Regions from separate parts of the Homo sapiens genome. Here region 1 is linked to region 2. A link means that fine-mapping ties the variant in region 2 to the expression of a gene that starts in the linked region. Tissue or cell type: whole blood. Region 2 holds a variant in brackets; the other region holds the start of a gene. All regions are shown on one strand. Distances are between the middles of the regions.

What was found.
Region 1: it holds the start of PPP1R14A, and the variant in region 2 is fine-mapped to the expression of PPP1R14A in whole blood (TOPMed, PIP above 0.99).

The regions. Positions count from the first base shown.
Region 1 is chr19:38,250,985-38,263,287 of GRCh38, reverse strand. PPP1R14A (protein phosphatase 1 regulatory inhibitor subunit 14A) reads left to right here and starts at 6,914. Exons shown (of 4, transcript NM_033256.3): 1 at 6,914-7,149; 2 at 10,314-10,394; 3 at 10,950-10,982; 4 at 11,842-12,051. The coding sequence starts at 6,949. The coding sequence ends at 11,970. RefSeq lists enhancers at 1-84, 225-1,161, 1,162-2,099 and a silencer at 6,935-7,122.
Region 2 is chr19:38,269,699-38,282,001 of GRCh38, reverse strand. All of the region lies in intron 1 of SPINT2 (serine peptidase inhibitor, Kunitz type 2), which reads right to left. Among named protein-coding and RNA genes, the nearest start is that of SPINT2, 11 kb to the right of the region's middle. The variant C/T (reference allele first, on the strand shown) is at 4,596.

The DNA.
Region 1 (12,303 bases), 19 kb after region 2:
ATCAGGGGCTGGGATGGAAAATAACAAGAGATCTTTTGAATGGGGTGGCGGAGGAAGGGCTTTGTGAGGGGTGGCTTTGATAATGAACTCTGAAGGATGATAAAGGCCAAGGGACAAACATTCCAAGAATCAGGAATGGCACATGCGGAGGCCTTCAGGCAGGAAAGAGAATAGTGTGTTCAGGAGCCAGGGCCACTCCCACTCTTCAGCCTCCCTCCTAGCATAATAATACATGAAAAGCCGTAACTGAGTTATCAAAATGGTATTTACCTTAAACAATGGAAGTCTAACCTTGCAATGAGATCATGGGACTCAAGGTGGAATCTGAATGTGAGGCCAAAGGTCTCCCCCAGCACTTGAATCTCCCACTGCCACTCAGGCCTACTAAACCTAGGCTTGAGCATGAAAACAGAGAAGTATGTGCTGAGCCGTCAAGGCTTGGAAGAAGGTATAGGCCTCTTCTTTCTTTATTTTATTTTATTTTGAGACAGAGTTTCACCTGTTGCCCAGGCTGGAGTGCAATGCTGTGATCTCAGCTCACTGCAACCTCCACCTCCTGGATTCAAGCAATTCTCCTGCCTCAGCCTCCTGAGTAGCTGGGATTACAGGCACCACCCGCCACCACGCCCAGCTAATTTTTGTATTTTTTGTAGAGATGGAGTTTCACCATGTTGGCCAGGCTGGTCTCGAACTTCTGACCTCACGATCCGCCCACCTTGACCTCCCAAAGTGCTGGGATTACAGGCGTGAGCCACTGCATCTGTCCAGTTTTGAACTTTAAACACAAAAACTCAAAAGGAGGGCTGAGCGCAGTGGCTCATGCCTGTAATCCCAGCACTTTGGGAGGCCAAGGCGGGTGGATCACGAGGTCAGCAGATCAAGACCATCTTGGCTAACACGGTGAAAAAATCAAAAAGATTAGCCGGGCGTGGTGGCGGGAGCATGTAGTCCCAGCTACTCGGGAGGCTGAGGCAGGAGAATCTCTTGAACCCGGCAGGCGGGGTTTGCAGTGAGCCAATATTGTGCCACTGTACTCCAGCCTGAGCAACAGCGCGAGAGTCGTTCTCAAAAAAAAAAAAAAAAAAAAGAGGCCGGGCTCACACGCCTGTAATCCCCAGCACTTTGGGAGGCCTGGGCATCTCCATATCTGTCCTGAGAAACATTCCAAGCATCAACATTCCTGATGCTTGGAATGTTTGTCCCTTGGCCTTTATCATCCTTCAGAGTTCATTAAAAAGAGGTGGCTCACGCCTGTAATCCCCAGCACTTTGGGAGGCCGAGGTGGGCGGATCACGAGGTCAGGAATTTGAGACCAGCCTGGCCAACATAGTGAAACCCTGTCTCTACTAGAAATACAAAAATTAGCCGGGCGTGGTGGCGCGCGCCTGTAGTCCCAGCCACTGGAGAGGCTGAGGCAGGAGAATCGCTTGAACCCGGGAGGTGGAGGCTGCGGCGAGCCGAGATCGCCCCACTGCACACCAGCCCGGGCGACAGTGTGAGACTTCGTCTCAAAAAAAAAAAAAAAAAAAAGAAGGGCCGGGTGCGGTGGCTTATGCCTGTAATCTCAGCATTTTAGAAGGCTGAGGTGGGCGGATCACGAGGTCAGCAGATGGAGACCATCTGGGCTAACACGGTGAAACCCCGTCTCTACTGAAAAAAAGTACAAAAGACTAGCCGGGCGTGGTGGTGGGCGCATGTAGTCCCAGCTACTTGGGAGGCTGAGGCAGGAGAATCGCTTGAACCTGGGAGGTGGAGTTTGCAGTGAGCCGACATTGCGCCACTGCACTCCAGCCTGAGCGACGGCGCGAGACTCGTTCTCAAAAAAAAAAAAAAAAAAAAAAAAAAAGAGGCCGGGCGCGGTGGCGGGCGCCTGTAGTCCCAGCTACTCGGGAGGCTGAGGCAGGAGAATAGCTTGAATCCGGGAGGCGGAGGTTGCAGTGAGCTGAGACTGCACCACTGCCCTCCAGCCTGGGTGACAGAGCGAGACTCTGTCTCAAAAAAAAAAAAAAAAAAAAAAAAAAAAACACCAAAAAAAAAACCTTGACAGTAGGCCAGGCGTGGTTGGCTCACACCTGTAATCTCAGCACTTTGGGAGGCCGAGGCGAGCGGATCACCTGAGGTCGGGAGTTCAAGACCATCCTGACCAACATGGAGAAATCCTGTCTGCTAAAAATACAAAATTAGTCGGGCGTGGTGGCGGATGCCTGTAATCCGCGCTACTCAGGAGGCTGAGGCAGGAGAATCGCTTGAACCTGGGAGGTGGAGGTTGCAGTGAGCTGAGATAGTGCCATTGTACTCCAGCCTGGGCAACAAGAGCGAAACTCCGTCTCAAAAAATGAAACAAAAACAAAACAAAAAAAAAACCGACAGTAATTGCATCAATTGTTTTTTTCCCCCTTTTTTATATTGCATCAATTGTTTAGAAAGCAGACCACCAAAAGGTTTTTGTTTCTGTTTCTTCCCTGGGGAGGACTATTTTATCATTGACACTGTTTAGAAATGTCACTGCAAAGTAAAATAAAAATTAGACCAACTTTTGGTCAGTTTTTTTGAAATGGAGTCTCACTCTGTCTGTCGCCTAGGCTGCAGTGCAATGGCACGATCTTGGCTCATCGCAACCTCCACCTCCCGGGTTCAAGCGATTCTCCTGCCTCAGTCTCCCAAGTAGCTGGGATTACAGGCTTGTACCACCACACCCGGCTAATTTTTGTATTTTTATGGAGATGGGGTTTCACCATGTTGGCCAGGCAGGTCTTGAACTCCTGACCTCAGGTGATCTGCCTGCCTTGGCCTCCCAAAGTGCTGGGATTACAGGCATGAGCCACCATGCCCGGCCTTGGTCAGCTTTTTATTTTTAAATTCTCTACAGACAGTGCACCCTCTTTTTGCCTGTACCCAAAGTGGACCAGTCCTGTCCCCCTGCCTTTAGTATGCTACTAGTTGGGAAACAGACAATAATTTTTTTTTTCTGTCACTGCACAGAACAGAAAATATGACATTTTTCTTTTTGAGACAGGGTCTCACTCCATCACCCAGGCTGGAGTGCAGTGGTGCAATCACAGTTCACTGCGTCCTCCATCTCCTGGACTCAAGTGATCCTCCCAACTCAGCCTCCAGAGTAACTGGGACTACAAGCATGTACTATTGCACCTGGCTTTTTTTTTTTTTTTTTTTTTTTGTAGCGACAGGGTCTCACTATGTTGCCCAAGCTGATCTTGAACTCCTGGATGTAATTGCTCCTCCTGCCTCAGCATCCTATAGTGCTGAGATTACAGGTGTGAGCCACCACGCCTGGCATGGACAATACATTAAATGAGTACATTATATATAATGTTAGAGGCCAGGCATGGTGGCTCATGCCTGTAATTCCAGCACTTTGGGAGGTCAAGACGGGCAGATCGTCTGAGGTCAGGAGTTCGAGACCAGCCTGACCAACATGGTGAAACCCCATCTCTACTGAAAATATAAAAAGTAAGCGGACACAGTGGTGTATAACTGTAGTCCCAGCTACTCAGGAGGCTGAAGCAGGAGAATCTCTTGAACCCAGGAGGCAGAGGTTGCAGTGAGCCATGATCACAATACTATACTCCAGCCTGAGGTGACTCCAACTCAAAAAAAAAAAAAAAAAAAAAAAAAAAAAAAAAAAAATATATATATATATATATATATATATAATGTTAGAAAGTGGTAAGTGTTATGTATCAAACAGAGCTGGATGAGGGGCACGAGAGTTGCAGTGTGAAATAGCGTGGCCAGGGAAGACCTCACTGAACAGTGACATTGGAGGGAGGTGAAGGAGTGAGCCCTGATGATATTCTAGGGAAGAACCTTCCTGGCAGAGGGAACTGCGAGTGAAAGGTGCTGGTGCTGAAATGGGACTGTCCCTGGCAGAGATGGGACTGCTAAACCAGAGTTTGGCCTTTAGACTGAAGGTCATGGGTAGCTATGGATAGTTGTTTTTTATTTTTGTTTTTTTAGAGATGGGGTCTTTCTCTGTCGCCCAGGCTGGAGTGTGATGGCACGATCTCAGCTCACTGCAGCCTCCGCCTCCCAGGTTCAAGCAATTCTCCCACCTCAGCCTCCTGAGTAGCTGGGATTACAGGGGTGCACCACCATGCTTGGCTAATTTTTTTTGCATTTTTAGTAGAGACGGGTTCACCATGTTGGTCAGGCTGGTCTCAAACTCCTGACCTCAGATAATCCACTCACCTCAGCCTCCCAAAGTGCTGGGATTACAGACGTGAACCATGGCGCCTGGCCTGTTTTTAATTTTGAAATAAAACAGCTTTATTGAAGCCGGGCACGGTGGCTCACGCCTGTAATCCCAGCACTTTGGGAGGCCTAGGCAGGTGGATTACCTGAGGTCAGGAGTTCAAGACCAGCCTGGCCAACATGGTGAAACCCCGTTTCTACTAAAAATACAAAAATTAGCCAGGCGTGGTGGCACACCCCTGTAATCCCAGCTACTCGGGAGGCTGAGGCAGGAGAATTGCTTGAGCCTGGGAGGCAGAGGTTGCAGTGAGCTGAGATCATGCCAGTGCACTCCAGCCTGGCCAACAGAGCGAGATTCTGCCTCAAAAAAAAAAAAAAAAAAAAAAAAAAACACAGTCTTATTGAGATATAACTCACATACCATACAACTCACCCTTTATTTATTTAGAGATGGAGTTTCACTTTTGTTGCCCAGGATGGAGTGCAATGGCATGATCTCAGCTCACTGCAACATCCCCCTCCCAGGTTCAAGCGATTCTCCTGCCTCAGCCTCCTGAGTAGTTGGGATTATAGGCATGTGCCCCCATGCCCAGCTAATTTTTGTATTTTTAGTGGAGATGGGGTTTCACCATGTTGGCCAGGCTGGTCTCTAACTCTTGACCTCCGATGATCCATCCGCCTTGCCCTCCCAAAGTGCTGGGATTACAGGCGTGAGTCACTGTGCCTGGCCCAACTCACCTTTTTAAAGTGTATAGTTTGGCCAGGTGTGGTGGCTCGTCCCAGCACCTTATGAGTTTCATGACTGCAATTTTTTTCCTCCCATTCCATGGGTTGTCTCTTCACTTTCTTGATGATGTTCTTTGAAACTCAAAAGTTTTACATTATGGCTGGCTGGTGGAGTGAGGTGGCTCATGCCTATAATCCCAGCACCTTGGGAGGCCGAGGTGGGAGGATCGCTTGAGCCCAGGAATTGGAGAACAGCCTAGGCAACATAGGGAGACCCTGTCTCTACAATTTTTTTTTTTTTTTTTGAGATGGAGTCTTGCTCTGTCACCCAGGCTGGAGTGCAGTGGTGCGATCTTGGCTCACCGCAATCTCTGCCTCCTGGGTTCAAGCAATTTTCCTGCCTCAGCCTCCCCAGTAGCTGCAATTACAGGTGCACACCACTACGCCTGGCTTTTTTTTTTTTTTTTTTGTATTTTTAGTAAAGATGGGGTTTCATCATGTTGGCCTGGCTGGTCTTGAATTCCAGACCTCGTGATCTGCCCACCTCGGCCTCTCAAAGTGCTGGGATTACAGGCATGAGCCACCATGCCTGGCCTTTTTAAAAAAATTATTTATTATTATTTTATTTATTTATTTATTTTGAGACAGAGTCTCGCTCTTGTTGCCCAGGCTGGAGTGCAATGGTGCTATCTTGGCTCACTGCAACCTCCACCTCCCGGGTTCAAGCGATTCTCCTGCCTCAGCCTTCCGAGTAGCTGGGATTACAGGCATGTGCCACCAGGCCCAGCTAATTTTTGTATTTTTAGTAGAGATGGAGTTTCACCATGTTGGCCAGGCTGGTCTTGAACTCCTGACCTCGTGATCCACCCTCCTTGGCCTCCCAAAGTTCTGGGATTACAGGAGTGAGCCACTGCGCCCAGCCACATTTAAATTTTAGAGTATAATTATTGCTGCTTATAATTAGAAGTGAGAAGACTGTTTTGAAGTAAGGGACTTCCCTGGCCACCCTCGCTAAAATTGCAACCTTACCCTCACTCCATTTCTCCTTCTCTGCTTTATATTTCTCCAAAGCACTTATATGATAATAAACTGTATAATACCGTACTTACTGTGTTTCTCATGTATCCCGGCTACAACTGTCAACTGCGTGGGACTGGTTTTGTCTGTTTTGTTCCCTGCTCTATCCCTGGAGCGTAAAGCAGTGTCTGGTATAGAGTGGATACTTAATAGATATTCGTTGAACCGGGCCAGTGGCGGTGGCTCACGCCTGTAATCCCAGCACTTTGGGAGGCGGAGGCAGGCAGATCACTTGAGGTCAGGAGTTCGAGGCCAGCCTGGCCAACATGGCGAAATCCCGTCTCTACTAAAAATACAAAAATTAGCCGGGTGTTGTGGTGCATCCCTGTAATCCCAGCTACTTCGGAGGCTGAGGCAGGAGAATCGCTTGAACCTGGGAGGCGGACGTTGCGGTGAGCCGAGATCGCGCCATTGTACTCCAGCCTGGGCGACAAAGAGAGACATCGACTCAAAAAAAAAAAAATTCGTTGAACGGAATGAGTGAACAAACAAATGGATGGATGAGTGAATGAATGAACGAAGGAACAAGTGACCGCTCGACCTTCTACAGCGACAGCGGCGCAGGCGCTCCCGCACCAACAGCCCCCCACCCCGCCACCGCCAGAGGGCGCAGACAGGCCGGGTCCCGAGTGTCTGTCCCAGGCCCCCGCCCCACAGGATCCCGGCCCGGGAGCCCCCGATGCAGGGACCCGCCCGGGACTCTGGGTCCCCGCCCATACCTCAACTTCGCACGACTGCGTGCCTCAAGCCGACGCAGCGGCCTACTCTCGCACTGCAGACGGGGAAACTGAGGCCTGAGGCGGCCGGGGTGGGGCAGACCTCCCGGCGAGCCCGAGCCCCCGCCCCCGGCTAGCCCCGCCCTGGCCCGTAAGAAGCACCCGGGGCGCGAGGCGAAGGCGCACAGCGCGGGGCCAGGCTGGGTCCAGCAGCGCGATGGCAGCTCAGCGGCTGGGCAAGCGCGTGCTGAGCAAGCTGCAGTCTCCATCGCGGGCCCGCGGGCCAGGGGGCAGTCCCGGGGGGCTGCAGAAGCGGCACGCGCGCGTCACCGTCAAGTATGACCGGCGGGAGCTGCAGCGGCGGCTGGACGTGGAGAAGTGGATCGACGGGCGCCTGGAGGAGCTGTACCGCGGCATGGTGAGCCCGGGGAGGGCTCGGGGGTGGTCGGGGACAGATAGAGCCCGGGCGCGGAGACCCCACGCCCTTGGGGTCTCGGTGCACACTCGCTGGTGCACGGCCAGCCTGGTCTGCACAAGAGGACGAGCGCCCCAGGGCCGGGCACTCATTGGCCTGGCCATCCGTGCTCTATGGCATTGTGCTTGTGGACACACCGAGAGCAACACACAAAGACTTGGGTCTCCAGAGATGTGTCCAAACGCCTGTGGAGGGCCAGGGGTTTAGCATGAGGAGGGAGGAGGCTAAGTTGAGCTGAAACCGCCACGTCTGGAGAAAGAGTGGGGGAAGGGGGGTGTCATAAAGCCAAACACAGACATGGTGACAGGGGAGATACAGCCACACAGAGACCCACGGCAAAGGAAGCAAAAGCAGACACAGATGTGCACAGTGAAGGAAGCTATAGCCACTCACGGACACAGCCCAGAAGTAACAGCCATGCACAAACCCACAAGGACACAAGCGGGGGCTGGGGGGGGGTCACCTACAGTTCAACATATGCTACAGTCACAGCCACCCGCAGACACAGCGGCATGGGCCACAGCCGTAGGCAGACACAGCACAACCCCACTGGAACACAAAATGACTCAAGTTACGGCCCTTCCTTATCTCCTAAAGAAAAAACTGACCACCTTCAAGCACAAGCGCTGATCCGCAGCCACTCAAAGACATAAAACAACAGAAATTGGCCCAGCACAGTGGCTCACGCATTTTGTGAGGCCGGGGCAGGAGGATTGCTTGACGTCAGGAGTTCAACACCAGCCTGGGCAACATGGGGAAAACCTGTCTCTACCAAAAATCTTAAAACTTAGCCGGGCGTGGTGGCATGCACGCACTTGTAATCTCAGCTCCTCAGGAGGCTGAGGTGGGAGGATTGCTTGAGCCTGAGAGGCCAAGGTCACAGTGAGCCAAGATTGCACCACTGCACTCCAGCCTGGGCAACAGAGCGAGACCGTGTCTCAAAAACAAACAAAACCCAACAGAATTTATAACTACACCCAGACATAAAACTGTGTAAGCACCGGGCACGGTGGCTCACGCCTGTAATCCCAGCACTTTGGGAGGCCGAGGCGGGCGGATCACCTGAGGTCAGGAGTTTGAGACCAGCCTGATCAACATGGAGAAATCCCGTCTCTACTAAAAAATACAAAATTAGCCGGGTGTGGTGGCACATGCCTGTAATCCCAGCTACTCGGGAGGAGAATCGCTTGAACCCGGGAGGAGGAGGTTGCGGTGAGCCGAGATCCCGCCATTGCCCTCCAGCCTGGGCAACAAGAGCGAAACTCCGTCTCAAAAACAAACAAACAAACAAAAAACTGTAAGCTATAGGAACAGGTGGACATACAACTGCAGAACCCACCGCTGCTCACAGGCACACAAGAGCCTAAGCCACAGCTACATGTATTGACACACACAGGTACTTCATCACTTGAGTTTCTGCTTGAAGTCACACTTTCAGTGACTTCTTTTTTCTTTTCCTTAGAGGTGGGGCCTCATTGGCCGAGCACAGTGGCTCACGCCTGTAATCCCAGAACTTTGGGAGGCCAAGGTGGGCAGATCACTTGAGGTCAGGAGTACGAGACTAGCCTGGCCAACATGGTGAAACCCTGTCTCTACTAAAATTACAAAAATTAGCCGGGCATGGTGGCAGGCAGCTGTAATCCCAGCTACTTGGGAGGCTGAGGCAGGAGAATCACTTGAACCCGGGAGGCGGAGGTTGCAGTGAGCCAAGATCGCGCCATTGTACTCCACCCTAGGTGACAGAAGGAGACTTTGTCTCAAAAAAAAGAAAAAAGAAAAAGAGATGGGGCCTCGCTATGTTGCTCAGGCTGATCTTGAACTCCTAGGCTCAAGCAATTCTCTCTTGTCGGCCTCCCAAAATGTCAGGATTACAGGCGTGAGCCACTGCGCCTGGCCTTCTGTGACTTCTGTATGCTACAGTGTACACAGGACCCACGAGTCCTCCTCTTCATGGTGCGACAATGGTGGAAGGCATGGCCCTTCTCCCATGGTGACATGCAGTCCCTCTGTTCTCAGACTCACACCTGGGCCCATACAGGTGAACCAATCTGGTTGCTAGTGGCAGGTGGCATCTATGAGGCCATTCTCAGGTGGTGGGCCCCACAGCTGACTGTGGACACATGCTGATGTGTCACACACCCAAGCCAGAGCCACACACCTCACACCTGCAGGACCACAGTCCACTATACGAAGCCACTGCACGATGCCAGGTCCCTCTGCATCCTCGGCCAGCCCCAGGCCCTTGGCATCAGGCTGTGGCCCTGGCAGAGACTCACACACCTGTGTCCTTGCTGAAGCCCCTTCACCACACATGAACCAGGACCATCCAGCCCTGAAGCCCCAGGCCTGAAGCCGACAGCCGGACTTTGGGTTGGGGAGGAAAGGATTCATAACCCCAAGGCTCTCTTGCTCCCTCGACAGCTGGGGACAGCTGGGTCCTATTCCCAGCAGGGGTACTGAGCCAGCCTGCGCTTGGGCCACTGCCTGTAGAGGCCACACTCAGCGCCCCGCTCTTAGCAGCTGAGTTGAGCCATGACTCATCCCACCCACCCACCTTGAGGGGCCTCGGTGGTCCTCCCTTCGGTCTCACCAGGCTGCATTTTGGCCCTCTGGGGGCTGGCCCAAGCCGTCCCCTCCCTTCCTGTCCCCTCCCTTCCTGTCCCCTGGGGGAAGGGGCCGCCCCAGCTGGCTGCTGGCTGCCAGCCTCTCCTCCCCTGCACCTAGTGCTAAGACTTTTCCTTGAAAGGGCAGAAGCCAGCTCCTCTCCCGAATCCCAGAATCTGACATTCCAGGACTCCACTAGGCCTGTTTTCCTCTGTGGGAACTAGAGCCAAGGCGAGAGACCCGTGCCAGCCCCGAGGCTCCCGGGGCCCATGGGCCCAGGCATCGGGCTGGTACAGGGCCCCGGGGCTCTCTCAGCCCATCTGTCACCCCTCCCCCCCAACACCCAGATGTCCCGTCTTGGCAGTGCTGTCCCGGACTGCCACATTAATGCTCCAGAACCCGCCAGCTGGGCCCTGGGGCCGGTGGGGCTCCTGCAGAGCCCTGGACAAAGGCGAGGGAGGGAGGGAAGGGGATCCTAAGCACCCCTCCCTCCCTGGCCCTAGGAGGCAGACATGCCCGATGAGATCAACATTGATGAATTGTTGGAGTTAGAGAGTGAAGAGGAGAGAAGCCGGAAAATCCAGGTAGGTGGGGGGACGTGTCCCCCAGCCTCCCACTTTGCACCTCCCTAAAAATAATAGCAATAGTTCACGTGTTTACTGAGTGCTCACTAGATGCCGGGCACTGGTGTGATGGCTTTACATGTATTCACTCACTTAACCCTCACAAAACCCTCCGAAGCAGGCGCTAGTGTGAGCTCCATTTTCCCCATGAGGAAAATGAGGCCCAGAGAGGTTGAATCCCTTGCCCAGTGTCACACAGCTCAGAAGGAGCAGAGCTGGGCATCGAACCCAGGCAGTTTGGCAGCCATGTCTTTGCTTATGGCTTATACCTTTTTAGAGGAGGGAAGTGCTGTGTGACCCTCTCGCCCTCTCTGGATCTAGTAACTCACCCCTGCCCTGAGTCGATCCACATGCCCCTTGGGCTCTGTTCCTCTCTTGAAGCTTGGTGGGCAGTCCACCCTGGAGTCTGACTTCCATTTGTCTTGCTGCTGGGGCCTTTTGGGAAAGGGAAGGGGCTGGAGGGGAGTAGGTGTTAGTCATTTACTGTTTTGTTTTGTTCTTGGTTGGGGGTTTTAGGGACTCCTGAAGTCATGTGGGAAACCTGTCGAGGTGAGTTTTCTCTCCCTCATTCTCTCCCTGTTCTGGCCCCAAGTACTCTGATGGGGGAGGGGGAAGAAGCTGGCAGAAGGGTCTCTGGGGAACACCACCCGGCCCCACCACCCCCGGCCCCAACCTGCCCTCCGCAGCTCTTTCTGGTCTCCAGGGGTGTCTTTTGTCCTCCTACTTGTCTCTCTCCCTCTCTCCCCCATCTGCTGAGGGGGCTCCATTCTGTCCTCCCCCATCTGCCCTGTTTTTGCCTCTCCTGTGCCTGTCCTTTGGCCACCAGCCTTCGGGCTCAGTCTCCCTCTGTCCTCCCCTGTCACTGCCTCCGCCACCCCGGGCTCCCTTCCCCACCTCTGGGGGCCCTCCATCCTCCCAGGCCCTGAAGCTGAGCGGCCCAACCCCTCCCACTTCCTTCCCTGCTTTAAAAGGGAAAACTATTCATGTTTCTCCAACTAGCTCTAGGGACAAACGTCATTGCATTTCTGTTCGCCCTGGATCTATCTCTGGGGACCTGTCTCCACATGTCTCTGTTTCTTTCTCTGTCCTTATGTCTCTCTCTGTCTCTATCTCTACATGTCTCTCTGTTTCTGTGTCTGTTTCTCCCCCTCCCCCACTCCGTATCTGTCTCCTTGGATCTCTATCTCTCTTCCTAGCTCTTTCTCTCCATCCCTCCCATCGCCCTTTCCCCATCTCTGTCTTTCTCCCGGCTCACTTTTCTCTCTATGTCTATAGCCTCCGCCCCTAACTCCCCCCACCCCACAATCAGAGAACAGGAGGAGGCGCCCAGGTCAGGGACTGGGCTGGACAGGGGCAGAGGGTGCCCCCGCACTGTTCCCATGTTCTCAGCTCCCCCACCCTGTCTCAGGACTTCATCCAGGAGCTGCTGGCAAAGCTTCAAGGCCTCCACAGGCAGCCCGGCCTCCGCCAGCCAAGCCCCTCCCACGACGGCAGCCTCAGCCCCCTCCAGGACCGGGCCCGGACTGCTCACCCCTGACCCTCTTGCACTCTCCCTGCCCCCCGGACGCCGCCCAGCTTGCTTGTGTATAAGTTGTATTTAATGGTTCTGTAACAATAACACTGTGTGGCTGTTTTTCCTCCCCCCGGGTTACCATGGGCTTCCCCGAGCTCCCCCCACAACCTCCCTCTCTCCTCCTGTGGCCTCTGCTCATGTCCCTGTCCCAGCACTGCAGCTGGGCCTGCCAGATGGAGAATCACTCCTCCCGGGCCAGAAAGCATGAGAACGGGCCCTGCTGAGCCCACGCCCTTGGGATTTATATCCTAGACCTTGCCTTCCCTTGAACTCCCCACCCCACCCCCATCCCCAGTC
Region 2 (12,303 bases):
AAAGCTAACCATGAAAAGTCACCCGTTAGAGGGTACCTTATCTAGACACTTCATATGAATGAAAGTGTACAGTATGTCCATAAAAGGCAAATCAATAGACACAGGAAGTAGATGAGTGGCTGCTTGGTACTGGGGGTGGGAATGGGGAGTGATGGGTAAAAGGATCTTTAGGGGATGATGAAAATGTTCTAAAATTGGATTGTGGCAATAGCTGCACAGCTCTGTAGAAGGTGCTAAAATCCTTGGATGATATACTTAAAACGAGTGATTTTATGATAATTTTTTTTTTTTTGAGACAGAGTTTCACTCTTGTTGCCCAGGCTGGAGTGCAGAGGCGTGATCTCCGCTAACTGCAACCTCCACCTCCCAGGTTCAAGCTGTTCTCCTGCCTCAGCCTCCCAAGTAGCTGGGATTACAGGCATGCACCACCACACCTGGCTAATTTTGTATTTTTAGTAGAGATGGGGTGTCACCATGTTGGCCAGGCTGGTCTCGAACTTCTGACCTCAGGTGATCCGCCCATCTCAGCCTCCCAAAGTGTTGGGATTACAGGTATGAGCCACCGCGCCCGGCCTATATAATTGTTTTTGAGATAGGGTCTTCCTCTGTCACCTAAGCTGGAGTGCAGTGGCAGGACCATGGCTCACTGAAGCCTTGCCTCCTAGGCTCAAGTGATCCTCCCACCTCAGCCTCCTGAGTAGCTGGGACTACAAGCAGAAAAAAAATTTTTTTTTTAAATAGGGGCACCTTTTGTCCATTACACATCAACCAAAACCAGCTGGCTGTACACCTGGAACAGGTACAATATGCCAAAGGTCACAAAACACATAATCAACAAGGTCCAGAGAAAACAGCAGGAGGAGGTCCTCTGGTGTGTGACTCTGCCCACCCCAACGCTGGGAGCAACACTGCCACCAACAAGACGAGATGAAGAGGACCCACGTGGGACCCAATTACAATCCAAAGCTGAAAACAGCATCAAGGCAAGAGCACCCAACAGCTACAGAGGCGCCAGCAGCCTCTCCGCCGCCCTGCCACAGTGAGCCCTGGCAGCCCCTCTGGCTGCTTTGTGTCTTAGCTTCCTAAGCAGTGTCAGACACAGCCTTTTTCCACAATAAACTTCAGGGGAATATTGTACACCTTAAATGGGTGAATCATATGGCATGTGAATTACATCTCAAAACAAAAACCAATAACCTGAGGGAGGGCCCAACAACACCCGGCGCCCAGGCAGGAACCACCCGACACCACACCTGAGAATGAAGCAGGGTGACCCACAGTATCATGGCAGGAATTCGGTAACTTCGTAAGTAAGGGTGCCAGGTACACGTGGCATGTGCCTGAGGGTGTGTAGGAGAAAAAATGCCTATTGAGGGATGGATGGCAGTTACCTTGGTGAATTCAACCCTGCCTAGAACCTGGCCAACATCTTTATAGGCCCAGACATGCACTCTTGCCAGTGCCCTCGTGCTGAGGAGACACAGGAGCACTGGCCTCAGCTAACAGCGCACGGGATGATACATGAGACCACAGCAGCAGGTGATGAATTTACAGTGAGAACATCACTGTATTCTGTCAAGCAGGTTGCATGCTGATGTGAATCAGCAAAACACCTTGGAAAGCAAGCATCAATGGAACACGATGCTTGAAGTCAGAATAAAGTTAGTTTACTGTATGATTCCTAAGAACATTCTCACCAACAGAATCTGTCAGGCAGGCCAAATGCTCACAGTAGCGGCTGAGGACAGCTCTTCCGGAGCACGGTCACGATCTGTCCCTGAGACGCTTCCTTTCTGGGGTGCTGCTGTGAGCCAGTGCCTCTTCTAGCTTGGATGCTTTCTGTTGACGTGCTGGGGGCTTCATGACAAGTCTTGCGAGCCTGGGAAGCCATTCTGTGTCTAGACAGCTGCTTACATCTGCTCTAAATATCACTGACTTAGTAGTTTAAGTTTCAGAAAGCAGCCTTATTTTCAGGTTCCTTCGGTAAAGTAGGAAGGAAAGGTAGAACTTCACTGTTGTCCCAGGAGAATTTAGAAACATGTCTTTATGGTCAGGCATGGTGGCTCACGCCTGTAATCCCAGCACTTTGGGAGGGTGAGGTGGGCGGATCACCTGAGGTCAGGAGTTCGAGACCAGCCTGGCCAACATGGCGAAACCCCATCTCTACTAAAAATACAAAAATTAGCTGGGCATGGTGGTGGGCACCTGTAGTCCCAGCTACTCAGGAAGCTGAGGCAGGAGAATCACTTGAGCCCGCAAGGCGGAGGTTGCAGTGAGCCAAGATCTTGCCATCGCACTCCAGCCTGGGCGACAGAGCAACGCTCAGTCTCAAACAAACAAAAAAGAAAAAGAAAAAGTCTCTTTATTAAGAGAAAACTTGGACTAAAAACATGTCTGAAAGACAGATGTTGGTAGTTGTTGAAGCTGTGTGATGGTGCATGGGGGTTTACAAAATGTGTCACTGCTTTGTATATACTTGAAAATTATTATAATAATTTTTTTTTAAGATGGAGTTTTGCTCTTGTTGCCCAGGCTGGAATGCAATGGTGCGATCTCGGCTCACTGCAACCTCCACCTCCCAGGTTCAAGTGATTCTCCTGCCTCAGCCTCCTGAGTAGCTGGGATTATAGGACTGCGCCATCACACCAGCTAATTTCGTATTTTTAGGAGAGACGCGGTTTCTCAATGTTGGTGAGGCTGGTCTCGAACTCCTGACCTCAGGTGATCCACCTGCCTCGGGTTCCCAAAGTGCTGGGTTTACAGGCACGAGCCACCGCACCTGGCCAAAAAAAAAATTTTTTTTTTTTTTACTCAAATTTCATTTGAGTAAAAGAGTTCTAAGTAGCAGATTAATTGGCTGAAGTTAGGTCCAAATAAGACTAAATTTAACCATGTCCTTACTATGTTAAGACACACATCTTTTTGTGAGTATGGAAGGAAGCTCCTCGTTGAAGACAAATCGTCTCATCTTGTCACATGCTTTCACTAACTGAATTGTTTTTAAGCATCTATGATGTAAACTTTACTCTCAGGCCTGAGAGAACTGAAGTCATGAAAAGGGATTTTGTTTGCTCATTTGTTTTAATGGAGGCAGTGTTCCTTCAGGAAACACAGGCCATATAGTATTCACTTCCACCACAAATAACAACAGTGCATTTTCTCATTCACTGTTCTGCAAAAACCTTGTATTTATTTATTTTGAGACTCAGTCTTACTCTGTCACCCAGGCTGGAGTACAGTGGCATGATCACAGCTCACTGCAGCCTCGACCTCCTGAGCTCAAGCAATCCTTCCATCTCAGCCTCCTGAGTAGCTGGAACTACAGGCACCCACCACCACGCCTGGCTAACTTTAATTTTTTGTAAAGATGGGGTTCTCACCATGTTGCCCAGGCTGGTCTCAAGTGATCCTGCTGCCTCCGCCTCTGAAAGTGCTGGGATCATAGGCATGAGCCACAGCACCTGGCTGCATTACTTATTGCCTTCGCCAAGCATGATGCCTGGCATATCATGTGCCCTACCTCTAATGGTCACAATAAAACTGTGAATCACGTAATAATATCTCCGCTTTACAAACGAGAATGCTGAGACTTGAGGTGGTTAAAGTGAGGCAGCCAGCAGTGCCAGGATGAGTTCCCTGTGGTCTGATGAGAGCCCAGGCACTAACACGACCCTTCAGACTGATGGGAAGAAAAAGCCACTGCATCAACAGGCAGCAGGAAAACAGAACTGAGGTTGCCTAAAAGCCAAAACATTCCTCAGGGTCTTTATCACAATCTGAGGGCTCACAAAGGCCAGGCCCTCTGCCAGGCCTCTGTTTTCAGTCACACTCAATGACAGGGTCACGGACACCAACATACCAAAGGAAACGGCCAGGGCTGGGGGGGAAATGGGCTGGACACATTTTTAGAAAGTTATTCCTTAATGAGGAATTCTATTATTATGAAATGACAAAATGCTATGTTGGTCTTAGAATAGTATTGGGAAGCAATCATGAAAAATATGACTCAAGTGCTATTTTGTATGCTCACAAATGGTAGGGCAAAATTAAGTACATTCTGTATGTTTTCAAAACGGAGACGGACCAACAGGAAAATGCTGAAAGGAACCAAATTTGGATGAACTCATAAGCTTCAGAATATCTAAGCAAAAGTAGAATTCCTGCCTTTAGGGAAGAGTAACTTTCTTTTGGAAAAGCATCAGAAATGGCAAAAGTCACACATTATCCGAAATATGAACCTCACTTACAAAATCCTCGCAGGCATTCTGAATGTCAGCTATTGCAAAATTGCAAAGCAAACTGGTCTTTGAATGTGTTGGAAAACAAGTTTCTCTGGTTCTGAAGTCACTAGAGCTTTAACCAAGACAATCAGCCGGTGACTAAGACAACAATCTACAGTCTGCTGGATAGATCTGCTGTCACCTTCTAAGAAGGACATTATAGAATTCTGAGGGGTCCCAAGTACTACCAATCTAATCTAATTTTATAGGCTTAGCAAGATAGTACTGGGCCAGTGGCTCACATCTGTAATCCCAGCACTTTGGGAGGCTGAGACGAGCAAATTGCTTGAGCTCAAAAATACAAAAAAAATGAGC[C/T]GGGTGTGGTGGTGTGCACCTGCAGTCCCAGCTACTTGAGAGGCTAAGGTAGGAGGATCACCTGTACCGGGAGGCAGAGGATGCAGTGAGCTGAGATTGCGCCACTGCACTCAGGCCTGGGTGACAGAGACCTCATCTCAAAAACAAAAAAACAAAAAAACAAAACAGATGAGATAGTACCTAATCATTTTCCAAAAATGCATAATTGCAGCTGTGTCTACTTTGCAAAGTAAGAACTTTAATGAAATATTTCAAATATGCTGATGAGTACAGAAAATACCCCATGTCTGGTATATCCACATCTCAGTGTCATCAAATTCTAACATTCTCAAGGACTAAAACATAGAGTAGGCCTGCTGGGCAGATCACCTGGGGTTAGGAGTTCGAGACCAGCCTGGCCAATATGGTGAAACCCCATCTCTACTGAAAAATACAAAAATTAGCCGGGTGTGGTAGCACGTGCCTGTAGTCTCAGCTCCTCGGGAGGCTGAGGCAGGAGAATCGCTTGAACCCAAGAGGTGGAGGTTGCAGTGAGCCGAGATCACGCCACTGCACTCCAGCCTGGGCAACAAAGCGAGACTTTGTTCTCCAAAAATAAATTAATAAATAAAACATATGGATAGAGCAGAAACCCTTTGCATACCCCTCATTCAATCACATTTGCTCTGCCTCTTCCAAATTAACCCCCTACCACCTTGAACTTGGTGTCTTATTTCATTCATGTTTTTATATCCATTAAAATAAGCTTTGTTTGTTTGTTTTTTTGAGATGGAGTCTCGCTCTGTCGCCCAGGCTGGAGTGCAGTGGTGCGATCTTGGCTCACTGAAAGCTCCGCCTCCTGGGTTCACGCCATTCCCCTGCCTCAGCCTCCCGAGTAGCTGGGACTACAGGCGCCCGCCACCACACGCGGCTGATTTTTGTATTTTTAGTAGAGACAGGGTTTCACCATGTTAGCCACAGTGGTTTCGATCTCCTGACCTTGTAAGTCCACCCGCCTCGGCCTCCCGAAGTGCTGGGATTACAGGCGTGAGCCACCACGCCTGGCCCCAAAACAAGCTTATTTTTAAAACAAGCAAAAATAACTCCTAGGGTTCTAGTTATTGACAGACTCCCATGAGTGCTATGAGCTGAGGCACAAGAGCTTCTTGCCTCACCACGTGCAGGACAGGAAAGCCCAAAGCCACTCCTGAAATGCTTCTCCTCCTCCTCCTCCCACCCATCTGTTTTTTCTAGAACAAGGGTCTGCAAATGTTTTCTATAAGGGGCCAAATACTGAATACAAGCAGCAATTGGCCTGCCCGTCAGTGTGTGATCACACAAAGCAATCTCATAATCAGTGGGAAAAATGATACTGCTCAATGACATTTAAAAATTTTTGTCAGCTGGGCGTGGTGGCTCACACCTGTAATCCCAGCACTTTGGGAGGCCGAGGCAGGTGGATCACTTGAGGTCAGGAGTTCGAGACCAGCCTGACCAATATGGAGAAACCCCGTCTGTACTAAAAATACAAAATTAGCCGGGCGTGGTGGTGCATGCCTGTAATCCCAGCTATTCTGGAGGCTGAGGCAGGAGAATCGTTTGAACCCAGGAGGCACAGGTTGCAGTGAGCTGATCCATTGCACTCCAGCCTGGGCAACAAGAGTGAAACTTCATCTCTCAAAAAAAAAAAAAAATTTTTTTGTCAAGCTGGGCATGGTGGCTCATACCTATAATCCCAGCACTTTGGGAGGCCGAGGCAGGAGGATCATTTGAGGTCACGAGTTCAAGACCAGCCTGGGCAACATAGTGAGACCCTGTCTCTACAAAAAATAAAAAAATTTTTTTGGCCAGATACAGTGGCTCACACCTGTGGTCAGGATTTCAAGACCACCCTGGCTATCATGGCGAAACCCCATCTCTACTAAAAATATAAAACTTAGCCCGGCACAGTGGCGCGCGCCTGTAGTCCCAGCTACTCGGGAGGCTGAGGCGGGACAATCACTTGAACTCAGGAGGCGGAGGTTGCAGTGAGCTGAGATCGCACCACTGCACTCTAGCCTGGGCGACAGAGCAAGACCCTGTGTCAAAAAAATAAGGAAAGAAAAACTCTATTGGCTATAAATGCACAGAGTAACAAAACAAAACAAAACAAACAAACAGAAAGAATGTTTATTTAGCATACTGTAAGTTAAAACATTGGAAACATTTAGGATTAAAGTGTTAATTTCTGTGCAAAAGAATTTCTAAGGGGAGTTTGAACCGTGCTTGTGGTCTTCTCACCATATAACTTACGATACAGAGCAAGCATCATTTCTACACCTTTTCCAGCAATTGCCAAACACTTTTCTAGATCTGGATCAGCTTTCAACGTTTTATCCTTTGCTCTTTCAATGTCACAAAATTGCTCGCAGAGCTGCTTCACAGAAGAGGCTCTGCCAGTGTTGCTTCCTCTGGGCCACCATCCAGAAAGTCACAACTGCCGCCCTCATTTCCGTGGACAAGAAGCCTTCACAAGCTCCCTGGCTGCAGATCCAGAGTCTCTCCAGTGGCAGAGGGAAGTGCAACACCTCCCGTAAGCTGGTCTACCTCTCCATTTTATGTTTTTTTTTTTTTTTAAGACAGTCTCACTCTGTCGTCCAGGCTGGAATGCAATAGTGCGATCTAGGCTCACTGCAACCTCTGCCTCCCGGGTTCAAGTCATCTCCTGCCTCAGCCTCCTGAGTAGCTAGGACTCCAGGAGTGTACTACCACACCTGGCTACTTTGTGTATTTTCAGTAGATAGGGTTTTGCTGTGCTGGCCAGGCTGGCCTCAAACTCCTAACCTCAAGTGATCTGCCTACCTCGGCCTCCCAAAGTGCTGGGATTACAGGCGTGAGCCACCTTAGCGAAAAACACTGCAGAACACCTTTCCTAAAAACAACTAACATCACTAAAAACAAGTCTCCTCTTTTCATTAAAAACACTTGGAATTCTAAGGATAGTAGCCAAGGAGAAGTTATTTGCTATAAAAATCCCCAGACATGCCACTCCTTAGTATCAAAAAGCAAAGAAAGCTCTGAAGAGTCATTTAATCCAAGAGTTTCAAAGAACTCCATCTCAAAAAAAAAGAAAGAAAAAACATTGTTGTGAAGATTAAAGGAGTTTTTAATCCATTATAATTGCTTAAAATAGTATTTAGCACACAGCTTTCTTTTTTTTTTTGAGACAGGGACTTGCCCTGTCACCCAGGCTGGAGTACAGTGGTACAATCTTGGCTCACAGTAGCCTTGACCTGTGCTCAGTGACCCACCCACCTCAGCCTCCAAGTAGCTGGGACTATAGGCGTGTGCCACCATACCCGGTTAATTTTTGCATTTTTTGTAGAAACGAGGTTTCACCATGTTGCCCAGACTAGTATTGAAGTCCTGGGCTCAAATGATCCACCCGCCTCGGCCTCCTGAAGTGCTGGGATTACAGGCGTGAGCCACCGCACCTGGCCTAGCACAAAACTTTTAACAAATAGTAGATATTGTATCTTTACGATTGTATTTTTTATGAAGACAGGACTAATATAGGGACAGTCAGAATAAAGAGAATGACACATTTCACTACAGAGTCCAACCAAGCATGCTGACGGAGAGGATAAGGAGGAAGAGGATATACAGGGAAGGCCAAAAGTACAACCTCAAGCCAAACCAATGATGTCTTATCTTCACCTGGAGGAAGACAATGGCAAACCACCACACGGGTCAAAGTCCTGCATGGCTACAAGATCAGGATATGCTGGGCTGGGAGGCAGAAAGCCAGAGGGAGGGACTGGTGGAAAAAACAAATACCAAAACAAATGAAGCAACACAAACCCTCCATGCTTTCCACACCTACTTGCACTTGCACTTCAAGCATCTTTTCACCAGGGAATGAATGAGAGCATCTTAAAAAGAGGTACTGAGGCCGGGCACAGTGGCTCATGCCTGTAAGCCCAGCACTCTGGGAGGCCGAGGCAGATCACCTGAAGTCAGGAGTTCAAGAAAACAGGTACTGAATGACAGGAGGTACTGAAGCCTATTTCAATTCTACCAAGCCAGATTCCAAAGGTGACATTTACTGTGTAATCAGCCTTATTTTAAGATGATCTATAAATCTACCTACTTTGGTTAGCTGGCTAGGTTCTATATATTTGAGTGTTTCTGTTTCCAGTACAGAAAGCTACCAACTACCCATCTCCTCTAGGCTTGGGTGTCTGGAAGTTTTCATTATTGAGACAATTCAGAACCTTTCAAAAAAAAACCTCAGGTATTTATGAGGAAAGAACATTTACAATTACAAATCCTACTTAAGTTATGAGGCTCATAAAATCTTGGTGTTTCAGATATAAAATCTTGGTATTTTCTATATAAAATATTTAGATATAAAAGTTTACATTTCAGGCCGGGCACGGTGGCTCACGCCTGTAACCCCAGCACTCTGGGAGGCTGAGGCAGGTGGATCACCTGAGGTCAGGAGTTCAACACCAGCCTGGCCAACATGGTGAAACCCCGTCTCTACTAAAAATACAAAAAAATGAGCCGGGCGTGGTGGTGCATGCTTGTAATCCCAGTTACTCAGGAGGCTGAGGCAGGAGAATCGCTTGAACCCAGAAGGTGGAGGTTGCAGTGAGCCGAGATCGCACCACTGCACTCCAGAGTCTGGGCGACAGAGACTCCATATCAAAAAATAAAAAATTTACATTTCATAACCTATCAGCACAATGCAACTCATCACTACTCATGCCTACCATCACTCCATATTCCACTCTGAAACAAGACTATTAAGTCTACCCTCGCCTCAATCCATAACAAGAACCCGAGCAGTCCATCTGAATAGCTGGGAAGGAAACAATAGTTTCAAATCTTCTAAGAAACTGTCTGCTGTTAATTCGCATTCAGCCATTCTTTACCTTGTGCAAATCATGGACCATTTTCAGAACTGAGGAAAGCTCTTGGACCCTCTCTCTGGAATGGTGTTTCTCAACCTTTTTTCATTACTACCTTCCCCCTAAGACTTTTTGGAAATGTTTTTCCTAATCGCCCCACAAAATTTTAACACCACAGACATACTATATATCTATTCATGTAGAGCGGCCCTTCAAAAGGTCACAAACTATTATAGTATCTTTTTGTTCCCCCACCCCTTTAAGAACATGCCATACACTCTAAATGACAGACCCTGGCATACACATGGACAAACTATCACATATAAAATTGTTTTGAGATGGGGTCTCGCTCTGTCGCCCAGGCTGGAGTGCAATGGTGCGATCTCGGCTCACTGCAACCTCCACTTCCTGGGCTCAAGCAATTCTCCCACCTCAGCCTCCCACATAGCTGGGACTACAGGCTGACTAGTTTTTTGTATTTTTTGTTTCACCATGTTGAAACTCCTCAGTCAAGCAATCCACCTGCCTCAGCCCCCCAAAGTGCTGGGATTACAAGCGTGAGCCATTGTGCCCAGCAGTATCACATAAAAGTGAAGGACTTCAGATTAAGGGACTTCTGAGGCCATGGACCCTGGGCCCAGTCAGGAATCACCCTGAGCTCCATCTCCAACACGTGTGAGTAAAACAACATGTGAATTCTTGCCCTCTTTTTTTTCTGAGATGGAGTCTCACTCTGTCTCCCAGGCTGGACTGCAGTGGCGTGATCTCGGCTCACTGCAACCTCCACCCTCCGAGTTCAAGCGATTCTCCTGCCTCAGCCTCCAGGCGCCTGCCACTGCACCCGGCTAATTTTTTTTTGTATTTTTAGTAGAGATGGGGTTTCAACATCTTGGCCAGGCTGGTCTTGAACTCCTGATCTCGTGATCCACCCACCTCGGCCTCCCAAAGTGCTGGGATTACAGGCATGAGCCACTGTACCCGGCCAAACATGTGGTGGTCTCTTGTAAGTGGCTCCTCTCACTTAGCATAACATTTTTTTTTTTTTTGAGAGAGTCTTGCTCTGTTGCCCAGGCTGGAGTGCAGTGGCATGATCTCAGCTCACTGCAAGCTCCACTTCCTGGGTTCACGCCATTCTCCTGCCTTAGCCTCCCAGATAGCTGGGACTATAGGCGCCCGCCACCACGCGAGGCTAATTTTTTTGTATTTTTAGTAGAAACGGGTTTTCACCGTGTTAGCCAGGATGGTCTCGATCTCCTGATCTCGTGACCCGCCTGCCTCGGCCTCCCAAAGTGCTGGGGTTACAGGCATGAGCCACCGCGCCCGGCCTCGCCCTCATTTCTAAAATGGCTTCTAATCATAAAAAGCATATTTCAAATAAACTTCAAAATAAGTAAACTCTAGCTCCTACTTCACCTGCCAAGGAAAATAAAACAACAAAAAAAGGTAAATAAACTCCAAAGTTCCTGGGCCTCAGCATCAACATCAGCACTTCTTTACAGGGAGTTTTCAAAAAGATGTTGCCAGAAAAAAACCATGAAATGACACTTGTGAGGAGGATCTTGCAGGACATCGGAATCCACACTCTAATGTCCACATTAGTCATGGCCGGTGGGCCAAGGCCTCCTGGGGCTAATGGAGTCATTTCAGTGTGACTCCTGCTGGGCTCTCTCCCGCCTCACATGAGCCACAGGCTTATCACCCCTTATTCAGCCTCCCCTGTAGCCTCCAGACATGGCAAACAGAAGCTCTGCATGCATTCTGCAAATGGCTGGGGATGGGTAAAATGAGAAACAGGGTGGGGAGCAGGGTGAAAGAGGAGAAGTGTGATTTCTCCATTGCAGGCTGAGCTCTCAAATACTGACTGGGCAAAGCAATGTTTCCAGTGGAAAGGGGCCAGTCTCCCGCGGTGACCTGAAGGCAAGGCCCTCAACCTTCTTTAGGAACTGCAACCATTTGAACCTCAGAAGCCCCCATTTTCAGTGCTAAGCACACCAACCCTGACACTCATCACCAGACATACATTCATCTGTTCATTTATTGTACTGTCTTCCTCTCATTATGACACGTCTGCCACGGATGGGGGAGGGGGTCTATTTTGTTCAGTGCTCTAATTTGAGTGAGTCAGTGCCTGGCAATTGGTGGGTGCTCAATAAACATTTGCTGACTATATCAGTGAATAAGATTTCGAACTACCCTGGAACCAAACTGCCTTGCCTGCAAGTAGGACAAGCACTCCTTCTATGGAGGATAAGAATAATGTGAGAAGCTGTTTTAGAGAATTCCCAGCTGATCGCCAACACCAGCTTTACTTTAGCTCTTCTGTCATCTTATCTCTGACCACCAGGGTCACGACTATCCATGGGGGTGAGGAGGAAAGTAAAGAAAGGGTGGCAACTAATAACACGTCTGTGGAGTCTGCTGGAAAGCTTACAGCAGTTAAGGTTCTACAGACACTATAATTAACCTGAGAGGTCCATGCATTTCGAAAATCCCTTGGAAGTGCAGGAGAGGGCTGGGCCACGTGGCTCGAGCCTGTAATCCCAGCACTTTGAGAGGCTGAGGTGGGCAGATCACCTGAGGTCGGGAGTTCGAGACCAGCCTGGCCCACATGTTGAAATCCCATCTCAGGCCGGGCGCGGTGGCTCACGCCTGTAATCCCAGCACTTTGGGAGGCCGAGGCGGGCAGATCACAAGGTCAGGAGATCAAGACCATCCTGGCTAACACGGTGAAACCCCGTCTCTACTAAAAATACAAAAAATTAGCCGGGCGTGGCGGCAGGTGCCTGTAGTCCCAGTACTCGGGAGGCTGAGGCAGGAGAATGGTGTGAACCCAGGAG